Linked DNA regions of Homo sapiens: region 2 is linked to region 1. The links come from fine-mapping of genetic effects on gene expression. A gene starts in region 1. The other region holds a variant in brackets. All regions are shown on one strand. Distances are between the middles of the regions.

The links. PIP is the estimated chance that this variant, and not a neighbour inherited with it, causes the effect. A credible set is the group of variants that fine-mapping cannot tell apart.
Region 2: its variant is the best candidate, but not a certain one, in a credible set for the expression of LINC00487 in caudate (GTEx, PIP 0.86).

What each region holds. Positions count from the first base shown.
Region 1 is chr2:6,767,955-6,773,329 of GRCh38, reverse strand. LINC00487 (long intergenic non-protein coding RNA 487) reads left to right here and starts at 3,019. Exons shown (of 6, transcript NR_038369.1): 1 at 3,019-3,251. It overlaps LOC105373404 (a long non-coding RNA gene), which reads left to right. Exons shown (of 4, transcript XR_922745.3): 4 at 1-507. RefSeq lists an enhancer at 1-163.
Region 2 is chr2:6,793,317-6,798,691 of GRCh38, reverse strand. It overlaps LOC105373404 (a long non-coding RNA gene), which reads left to right and starts at 1,758. Exons shown (of 4, transcript XR_922745.3): 1 at 1,758-1,944; 2 at 4,389-4,548. The variant G/A (reference allele first, on the strand shown) is at 2,335.

The DNA of each region.
Region 1 (5,375 bases):
GGGTGGCACTGTTGCTCCATGGAGAGCTGCCAACGGCGTCCCCGGGGACCCGGCCACGTTGAGCACAAAAGGTGGGATTTCTAAGGTGTGCTCGGTGATGAGTTTCTTAATGAATTTACCTCTTCTATGGAATCTCCCTCTGCAGCGTCTCCTGCCGCCCGGGGCCGGTTTCTGACTGTGGACTCTGGGTTGAGCCCATGGGGTCAGTGCGCGTGGAGCTTGCACTGCCCAGACCCACAGCCCCAGGAGCAGCCACCTCCCGTGTCACCCGGGCGGCGTCCTGATGACATCACTTAGAAGATTAAAAATAAATTGAAGCACATGTCACCTTAAAGGGGGCACAAAAAGGACATCTGCATGATTTGATGCATCCATGAGAAAGGGCTGCTGGCTTTTGATTTAAACTGTTGGGAAAGAGGATTTTAAAGCTTGTAAGCTGCTAGTATTTCCAAAAGAATGACTATTTTTTATTTTTTATTATTTAAATTAAAAAAGCACTTCCCTGTTCCCCTGTCCCTACACTCTAATTCTTCTTGGCTTTGATTTGGGCGATATTGTAGGCAGCTTTCTGCTCCACGGTGAAGGTCTGCCCGAGGAAGGACGGGGACAATCTTGGGGAAGATGGGGGAGGCGGGGACCGATTTTCCAGCCCAGAGCTGGGGTCTGCAGAACCAGGAGCCCGGGCCAGGCTGGCCTATCAGCCATGACCATCTGTGCACCTTAGCCACCTACTCACAGCACAGCCTCCATCTGCAGATCCACCTAGGACTCATCCATTCCTGACTGGTCTTTTGTTTCAAAACCCGGCAGCCCCGGCCCCTCCCAAGCCTGAAGTCACCACACACGCCCATCCTCCCATCAGTCACTTCCTGGCTAATGGGGACTGAGGCCCAATCATTCTCGTTTTTCATGCCTTGTCAGAGGCCTGAACACAGAGACAGAGGAAGGGAGAGAGAGAGAGAGGGCAGCTCTGGAGGAGGCGCAGAGTATGGGCAGATGTCCTCATGAAAAATTTACAAGGAATAATCAGAGGCCCCTTCTCTCCCCTCTGGCCAAAGTCCCCCTAGGCTTGTTGCCCGGGCCGCTGTGAGAATATTGGAAAAGTCCCCCTCGTTTTGAAGGCAATCTGGTTCTGGGGGGTTAATGCCCAGCGTTGATGCACTTGGCTGTCCTCTTGAGACCGGGTTGCAAATGCAGTTCAGGCAAAATTGATGAAGTATCAGTTAATCTGAGGCTGACAGTTTAGAGAGGTCACAGCTGCGAGGGGCTGCCAGGGTCTCCCAGAGACAGGACTAAGAAGAGTTAAAGCCAGGGAGGGCCCGGTGAAAGGAAGCATTCATCTTCTTCGCCTGGGCATTTCTCAAACATTGCGCCTGCCAGGATCCCTGAGCCTCTCTCCAGGTGAGCAGTGTGAGTGGGGAGGCTTTCACTCTGGTGCGCACAGTCATGCCTCCTCCCAGACAAATCCAAACCCACATGCCTGGTGTTCCTGGCTCCTTGGGAAGGAAGAAGGAGGGAGTTGCTGCTCCTAATTGAAACAGGCAGTTAGGTCTCCTATGCAAATCCCCTTGCTGTAATTGGCACTGTGAGTGCCGCCTGCTCATTCCTCCGTTTCCCGCTAGGGGAAGGTCATCTTGGTAAGAGATGTGTCCACACGGGGTGGGCTCTGAGCTGCTCAGAAGGAACTCTGCAGAAGTGGGGAACCATTGACTCACACCCTTCCCATAGGTGGTTTCCTTCAGGCTCCAGCAATTTTTTACAACAAGGTGGTACAATGAGAAAAATACCGCTCTGCTGTTAGACCACATATTTCAATCCTTGTACTTCCTAAGAGTTCTGATAGTCCAAGAGGCTGGGGGCTATGGCCATGTTTCTCACTCGAATTGCCCTGGTACTGAAATGCATCACGTGTAGGGGAGACTCAGTGTTTGTGAGCACACACTGAGTGACTATAACTGAGTGATTTCAGAGAGACAGAAGAAGGCATGCAAATGCACTTGTCTTGAGTTGTTTTCTAGGGGACATGCTCAGGGCTCTGGGACCTACCTAGTCATCTCGCTGCCTGGAGAGGCGGCTGCTTGGCCATGTTATCTCCATGCCTTCTAAATTAGGATGCGGCTTTAGGTTCACATTCATAAATAATTGGGTTTTATGGGATAGGAAGCAGCAAGGGCTTTGCGTTGATCGGCCCTGGGTTGGGTCCTGGCCTCCCTAAGCTTTGAGAATGATTTTATCATCACCATTGCCTGCTTATGGGAAAATAGGGCGGCAGTTAGTCGTGGAGTCCCTGTGACAAAGTGGCAGGTGGATGGCTGCGCCGGGGGTCTAACCTGCGCTGTCACACTCCGTTCCCTCTTCCTTTCAGTGACAAGAATGCAAGTAATAGTGCTGAGAATCGTGTGCTCAGCTGTGCTGGGCTGAGCATTTTATGTGCATGAACTCATCCCTCCCTGCGAACTTGTGAGAAAGGTATTATTATTATCATTATTAATATTATTATTACCGTATTCTCTCTGCTTACAGACAGAGAGATTGAGGTGTGGCAAGTAGGTAGTAAAATCCACCTTCTTCTTCTGTGAGGTTCCTCCTGTTCCCAGGGGTGTGGGGACGGTGAGTGGTGGATGGGTGAGGTCTTACAATGCAAAACTGCTGATTTCTACATCCGAAAAAAATCATGAATATGAACGATTATAGCCAGATTGAAACTATCATTATTTTCGGTAAGAAAAAGTGCGTCTATTCACAGAAAGTCAGGTACTTTTCCCCAAAATCACATGGGAAAAGTGTGCAAATACAGAACAGCCCTTCCAGGAAGGAACTATTTTCTCCGAAACAGGAAATTGTTGTACATTCAGACACACCATAAATACACGTCTAGTTTGTACATGGCAATTCCAGGGTCTGAGGCTCTTCCTTCCTGGCCCTAGAATGGCGTCTCTTGCGCTGTGGGCTTCCTGTTGAGGCAGGGGCTGAGGAGGTGGGAAGCAGAGGCTGAGATTTTCCTTCACCACGGTCACAGAAGATGCGCTGTTCCAGGGGCCTGGGTGGGAGCAGCCCAGGAGCCTGCGTCTCCCCTCCTCGGCCCTGGGAGGCGGCTGGACTGTGCCACACGGGACGGGTGCTGAGGGACCGCTGGGTGCCCACCTCCCTGACCCCTCCTGCAGGGGTGCCTGCCAAGCAGCCTGGGCACTGCCGTCTGGAAGATGCGCCGTGCCGGTTCTACACGGTGTTCCCTTGCTCCAGGCAGAAAGGTCAGTCCAGGCTTCTCACTCCATCGTGGCCAGAAGCCAAGTCTCATGGCATGAGATTCAACCAAAGAGAATCTCCTGGAGCTTCTTTACCTCATCAGACTTATATCCCACACAACACACACACACCCCCATCCATAAATGTGTGTATGTATATACCACACACGTACACACACATATGCCACACACATGCACACCACACACACAGAATGAATACACATACACCACACACATAAACACACACGTGTGTATGTATATATCACACACTTAAACACACGCATGCCACACACGTGCACACCACACACACAAAATGAATACACAGACACCACACACACAAACACAGAGATATCACACACATACATACACACACCATGCAACACACAAACATGCATACACATATTCCACACACAGAAACACACAGACACCACACATATACACACAGACATGCATACACACAACACACATATAAACACACAAATGCCACACACCAACACATGCCACACACAAACATGCACACACATACACCACACACATAAACACACAATACCACACACATACACAGACACTAACACACACTACACAAACATGCACACACATACACTACACACAAAAATACACAGATACCACACACATACACAGACACTAACACACACTACACAAACATGCATACACATACACCACAGATGTAAACACACAGATACATACATACACACACACCAACACCCACACTACACACATAAACACATGCATCATATGTAACACACATTACACAGACTTATATCCCACACAACACACACATACCCACATTCAACACACACACTTGCTCACACCCCTTCCCACACAATCCAACACACACACCCCCACATTCAACACACACGCATGCTCACACCCCTTCCCACACAACCCAACACACACACACCCACATTCAACACACACACTTGCTCACACCCTTTCCCACACAACCCAACACACACACACCCACATTCAACACACACATATGCTCACACCCCTTCCCACACAACCCAACACACACACACACACGCCTCCACGTACATCTTTTTATGGTAGTTATTTTTTTGTAAGTAAAATATTTGTATAATATCAGCTTATTGTTTGCCATAGCATAACTTATTTCAAACTTGTCCAACCTGCAGCCCATGTGGCCTGGGGTGGCTTTGAATGCAGCCCAACCCAAATTTGTAAACCTTTTAAAAACATTGAGATTTCTCAGCTATGATTTTCTTTAGCTCATCAGCTATTGCTAGTGTGGTGTATTTTATGTGTGGCCCAAGACAATAATTCTTCTTCCAATGTGGCCCAGGGAAGCCAAAAGACTGGACGCCCCTGAATTATGTGGTTCTCATCCTAGGTGATTTTGCCCCTGGAGGTAGGTGGAAAGTCTGGAAACATTTTTGGCGATCGCAGCTGGAGGGGGCTCTTGGCATCTACGGGTGGAGCCAGGGTTTAGGGTGTGTGCAGCACCAAAGGCTCGATGCCTCCCCAACACCAAAGAACCCTCTGAGCCCGTAGTGCGGAGACCAGAAACCCGATTTCAATTTCCTAGTAAAAGAAAACGGAAATGAAAACGACAAAACGGTCCTGTGTCTTCTCTCTTCTCGGTGCAGCTATCTGGATGGGGCGACTTGGAATTCCGAGTCTAGGCCTTGCACTGATTTTCCCCCCTGACATCTGGGAAGCCATTTCACTGTTTAAAACCAAAGATGCTGAGTGGCAGCTGCCACCAATTGGAAGGGGACAGGAGAAAGGGATTTTTATGAAGAGCCTGTGTGCCTTGGATGCTGCAGGTGGAGACCTCTGCAGTTTGTCCAGCAACTGCCTGCCAGAGATGGGCCAGAGAAGGGCCAAGCAGCTCCCTCCTATCGGAGGTCCACAGGTGGACCCCCACCCCCAGTCTCCATCCCCGGTCCACGCCCCAGTCCCTGCTGGTGGGGAAGCTGGGGAGCAGGCCATGCGTGTAATTCCAGAAGCTATTGCATGGCAAAGGCTACGTGCCCTCAAAGCCCGGGCACCTCCCTGGCCCCACAACTGCTTCACACAATACTTGTGTTTCTGTACGTTCTATGTGAAGTTTCAGGAAAGAATCTGTAAGTGATGTCTAAAGCAAGT
Region 2 (5,375 bases), 25 kb before region 1:
TTTGCCTTGCTGAATTCATCTCATCCCCTATGAACAAAATTGGTTGCTGGTAGGAGAAAAATTAAAGTCTAAGAATCGAATTGAGAACTAAGAGACTATGAGGAGCTGACTAATAGGCAATTGGGTAATTCGTGTGCCCCTCTCCACCTATAGACTCCTGTTTTTACAGAAGTCACCTCCTTAGAGTCCTATTATTACACAAGTCTAAAGACTCCTTACTAGGAAACTAGTCTTGGCATCGGTAAGCTAAAGCTAGTCAAGTGCTAATATTTACTGAGGATTCTAATTAGTGTTCTAATGCAGGGCCCGGCATGGCAACGTGATTGGCAAAGCTCGATGTGCCTGCATGTGCCGCACACTCGGATTCTTTCCCACGGTGATGCTGTGTGAGCCTAATCAATCTCCTTCCTCCCCTCCTCATTTTGCTTTTCCTGGGGAGTGAGAACAGACAGGAAAATGGATCATGGGCATGGTTTTTTCCCTTAGTATGACATGTCAAACAGTTTGAATGTCATTCAGCTGATACAACCTCGCAACGACGTGAGAACCGTCGTGGGAGAATGGCAATACAATCGGGATTAGGCTGAAGCTGGCTAGAGGGAGCAGGAAACACATTCTTTCCACTGCTCTTCTCATGAAGCTGCAAAACATTTAATTCAGAATTCTGGACCTATAGGATGTATAGGTGCAGAATCATAAGAGCAGTGGAGGTTGGTCTTTGGAGAGAGGACGCTGGGCCTCCTGTGGAATTTCGATAACCTCAGGATACTCTGTGGGTGAATGTGCTCTTCCAGGCTGAGGAAGCTATGCCTTCCCCACCACGTCTGGCCAGCTGTGGCCCAACCTCTGTTTCTGACCTGCACCCTTGACCACTCTTTCTGCTCTGGCCTTTGATGTTGGGCTCCACCGAGGCCAGGCCTCTGTTTTGCTTTCTTTTCACGTCTTGTCGATCATCTAAGACTCACAGCACTTGACTGTGGTGAGAATTAAAGGACATTATGGGTAAAGCACTTCTGGAGGGACTGGCAGTGTAAGACCTTGACAAGTGTCAGCTGCTCTCCCCAGGTTTCTCATTTTTAAAAATTTTGGTGCTAAAGTGCAGAAAGGCCCCATCCCAGGTCGGGTATTTGTGGCTCTTCTTTCTTGGTGCTTAGTGTCTTTAAAAGGGCATATGCTGTCCACAAAAACACATGGAAGAAGCCTGTAAGAAACCAGCTCAGAATGCTGCCGTCGGATTCCTGTCCCTCTTCTGATCTGCAGTTCCTGCCCTGCGATGAGATTTTCGGACCCTATCAGTTCTGCCCCTCTGCTTAAGAGAGTCTCTCCTGCACCCTGTTTTGATAACACATTTGCATGTACTTGTTTAGCTCAGTCTTTGGCCTTCACCCCTACACGAAGTCAGCTGCTCATCACCTTGCTTGAAAGGCTCAGAGAGCCACAGCAGTCTTCACCTGTTTCTATTTTTCTCTGATATAAATTGTAGACATTTTCTCATCTTCTGCAGAGAGCCCCATGATAATGTCAAACCCCCTCTTCCAACCAGTTTGCCTCTTCCAAGGCCATCTTGCATAGGAAATTTGGAGCCAATCTCTGAGAAGTAGAAACTGTTGGCCTCCATCTCAGTGGCAGGGGACTAACAAATATGCTTGCACTGACCCTGCATGCACACCTAGCTTCCCCAGACAGATGAGGCTGGACACTTTCTCTTCCTTCTGCACTTGCTGCTCTCATTGGGTTGCGCTTTCATTCTCTCCTTCTGCCTCTTTCTTGGTGATTTGATCATAAACATTGTGTGTTGGCTCACAAACCTGGGATTCCATCAGGCAGAATCCTGCCTGCAGGAGGGGGCAGGTGAGGATGCTGAGGGTGCGAGCATCTTCCTTTGTTGTCTCAGCATCTCTTTTTGAACCCAGGCATAAGAGAAGGCCCCTGTGTCATTGATAGGTAAGTTAAGACCAATAAAAGTATAAACATAACACATCTTAAAAACAGTGATATATCCTTTGTTTCTGAGAAAATACAGAGATGGCCTTAGAAAGGCTCTTGCACATAGGATGAAGCCTGAGCTGGTTTTAAAGCAAAGTGGTCTTTTTGATCATTTGAGAGAAGGGTGCTATCCTGGGCAGGGGAATGATATGAGCAAAGACAGGGATTCTAGAAGCTGAAACGTGTTGGGAAAGTGGAACAGGGAGCTGCAGGAAAAAGGAAAGTTGTTTGCTTACTGTGCATGAACCCAGAGTCTGCCACTCCCACATTCCCCGATCTTCTGGAGATTTCCTTTCTTTAAGATCTACATGCAGTGACCGAAGCGTGAAGCCACTTCCTAAGGGGAGC[G/A]TCCCCTTCTGTCCGAGGAGGCCCTTATTCTCATGGCCGGTGCTCGGGCCCCTGGATTCTTGCCCACCCACGTCATTGGTTCCCTGCCCACAGCCAGCATTTTACTCCTCGCTCCCCTCATTCTTTAAACTCCACCAACGCAGGCTTTGGAGAAACAGACTTTGCTGACATTTGGGAGCCATACAGTGGCCCCATCAGAGAACAGGCAACAACTTATGAATGACCACTAGAAATCCAGTCCAATCCACCACAGGCCATCCTGCCTGAGCTGCTCTCTCCTGAGCCTGCCTGACCCCATCACATCCTGGCCGACTCTCTCTCTCAAAACCTCTCTTCTCTCACTCTGTGTTTTCTCCTTTGTCTAATATCTCCACCAAGAGCAGGCAACAGTTTCTGTTGTTTACGATCAGAAGAGTTCATTTTTTTTTTCTAAACGTTTCTCATTTTGAACCAGTGGACCTTGACATTCACAGCCACACAGGCCCACTGAGGTCTTTTTCTTAAATAAAACAGCAACTTTTTCCTAAAGAGGCATTTGTCTTTCTTCTTAGACCACTGTTCTCCATCCTGGATGTGCATTACTGTCACCCGGGAACTTTTAGTGGCATCACCACCTGGGCTGCCATCTCTAGCGATGCTGATTTGCTTGGTTCCAGCTGGACTTGGGCACAGGCATATATTTTGTTTGTTCTGCTTTTGTTTTTATTTTTTTATTAATTTTTTTAAAAAGGGGATGGGCTTGTTGGAAAACATTCCCCAGGACATTCTAACACGCAGCCATAGCTCAGATCGGGAGTCGGCATCCTTTCTCCGTGAAAGGCCAGAGAGTGAAGATTTTCGACTCTGTGGGCCACATCAGGTCTCCGTCATAGATTATTCTTCTTCTTCGTCTTTTTTGATTGCTTGTTTTTAATTCCTTTACAAATATAAAAACCATTTTTAACTTGGGCCATAGCAAAGATAGGCTTTGGGCTTTTCTGACTGCTATTTTAGACCAACAAGTTCCATCTTTGGCCTTTCTTCATATAGTTCTATTTTCTTCTCCTTATGGAAAGTGGGTTTCAGGAGACTGGGCATTTTTAAAAATTTGTTTCCTTATCTTTAATGCAAAGGGATTGAATGTATGATCGCCTATGCTCCCTCCAGCGCTGAACTTCTCTCATTCTATTTTGTGGAGATGGCTGTGGTGAGCTCTTCTCAGGCCATGAGGCACGTGTGTCCTGGCCAGGAGTTCATCACAGCAGCCCACGAGGGGTGCATGGAAGATTCTAAGCTTTCAGGTGAAAAGATCTGGGTACCAATTCCAGCCTATCGTGTATAAGCCTCCCTCACTGCCCCATCTATGACTAGGATAATAACAGCGACTTGATAGGGCTGTTGTGAAGATTAAATAAGATGACGGAACCTGTGCAATAAAGTGGAAACAAGGCAGCTCCTTCGTCCAGGTGCCTCAGGTACTTGCTAACTGTGTGAGTTTGGGCAAATGCACTGCCCCAAGCCACGGTTTGCTCATGTGTAAAATGGGGATGATTATATCACCGCTTCCTTCAGAAGGCTGCGACAGTTAAATGGAGCAACCCATGTAAAGTGCGTTAGACAGAGAGGAGGCACTTAACAAACAGCTGCCATTAGACTTGCTGAGGTAAAAGAACCAGTTCAGTCACATGGCCCAGTGTAGGATCATGATCACGTGGTCAGAACATCAGCGAGAAGCTGAACAGTGCTTTTCTGTTGCTTCTCTAGGGTTTTTCCAACATATGCACAAAATCAGCAAAAATATATATAGAACCGAGGAGGCTCAGGGAAAATGACAGGCAGACATGCAGCTATTGCAAACCCGTGATGTGCCAGGCCCTGGGTTTCTTCCTGGAAATAGAGACATAAATAAGACACGGATGATGATCACCATCAAGGGTTCAAGGGCAGTGCATAGCTCTTTGTTCAAATCCACAGAAATATGACTCGAAGAAAGCATACGGTGGATAGAAAAGATCTTGCAAATCAGCCCTGTGTTCTTCTGTATCACAGTTCAGGAATGTCTCTTCTCCATGCAGGTTCATGGCACATCAACGAGTGTGACTGGGGAGTGCTGGCAAATCTACAGTTGAACTGCCTAATAATTTGTGGCATCAGAACCATGCAGGAGACAAACAAAATGACTTAGACCTTCTGTGTGATCTCACGAGGGTTGTGTTGTAGGGCTCCTGTAATAAGGTGAGTTATTATATCTGCGTAGTGCCGGGCAACATGCCTGGGCCTGCATGAGCTCCTCCTCTGTTCTTGGTCTCTCATTTGACATGAAGAATGAGAAGCAGACCGTTCCTGCATGCACTCACGTCTTCTGAGATCTATGGATCTCTGCTTTAGCTCTTCCCAGTTTACTATTTGATGAAGGAGAAAAGGAGAAAGGCACTAATAGGCACTAATCCTTTAACTTTTGACCAGTCTGTTTAACGACTAAAACTGCTCCTTGGAGGTTGACTTCATCCTCAGCATTTTACCTTTTTACTAATTTAGAAAACTAAAGTATAGAAGCTTTAATTTTTCCGGAGCCTCTGATCAGATAGTGGGAGAAACAACTTTTAAACTCTGGACTGTCTGCACCAAAAATCAAAGCCCTTTCACAATCCTACACAACTCTCCTACTTACCTCACAAGTAATTGAGCTTTAACAATAAAGAATATTTATAGAGTCCTTGCCTTGTGTGCTTACTGTATATACTGGAGTTTGTCATGCTCTCAGGAGGGAGGGTTTATAAGTGACCACACCAGTGCTACTTCACAGGCTAGGGAATTGCGTCACAGAGCAGAGTTTAGAAGCTTGCTTAAGGTGATGCAATTAATAGGTGGGAGAGTTAGTGTTTGAAGTAGCCAACGGGCCTGTTGTTTTTAAGAGCTGTGCTATAGAATCTCTTTTTGCTTGATTTTTGTCTCTAATCTTCTTGGTCTGGTCACAAGTTGCATCTCTATCGACAAATTGAAGCAGTTATCTAGAGTTTTCTGCCCTGGATTTTTAATAATTCATGCAAAGACCTTAGTCT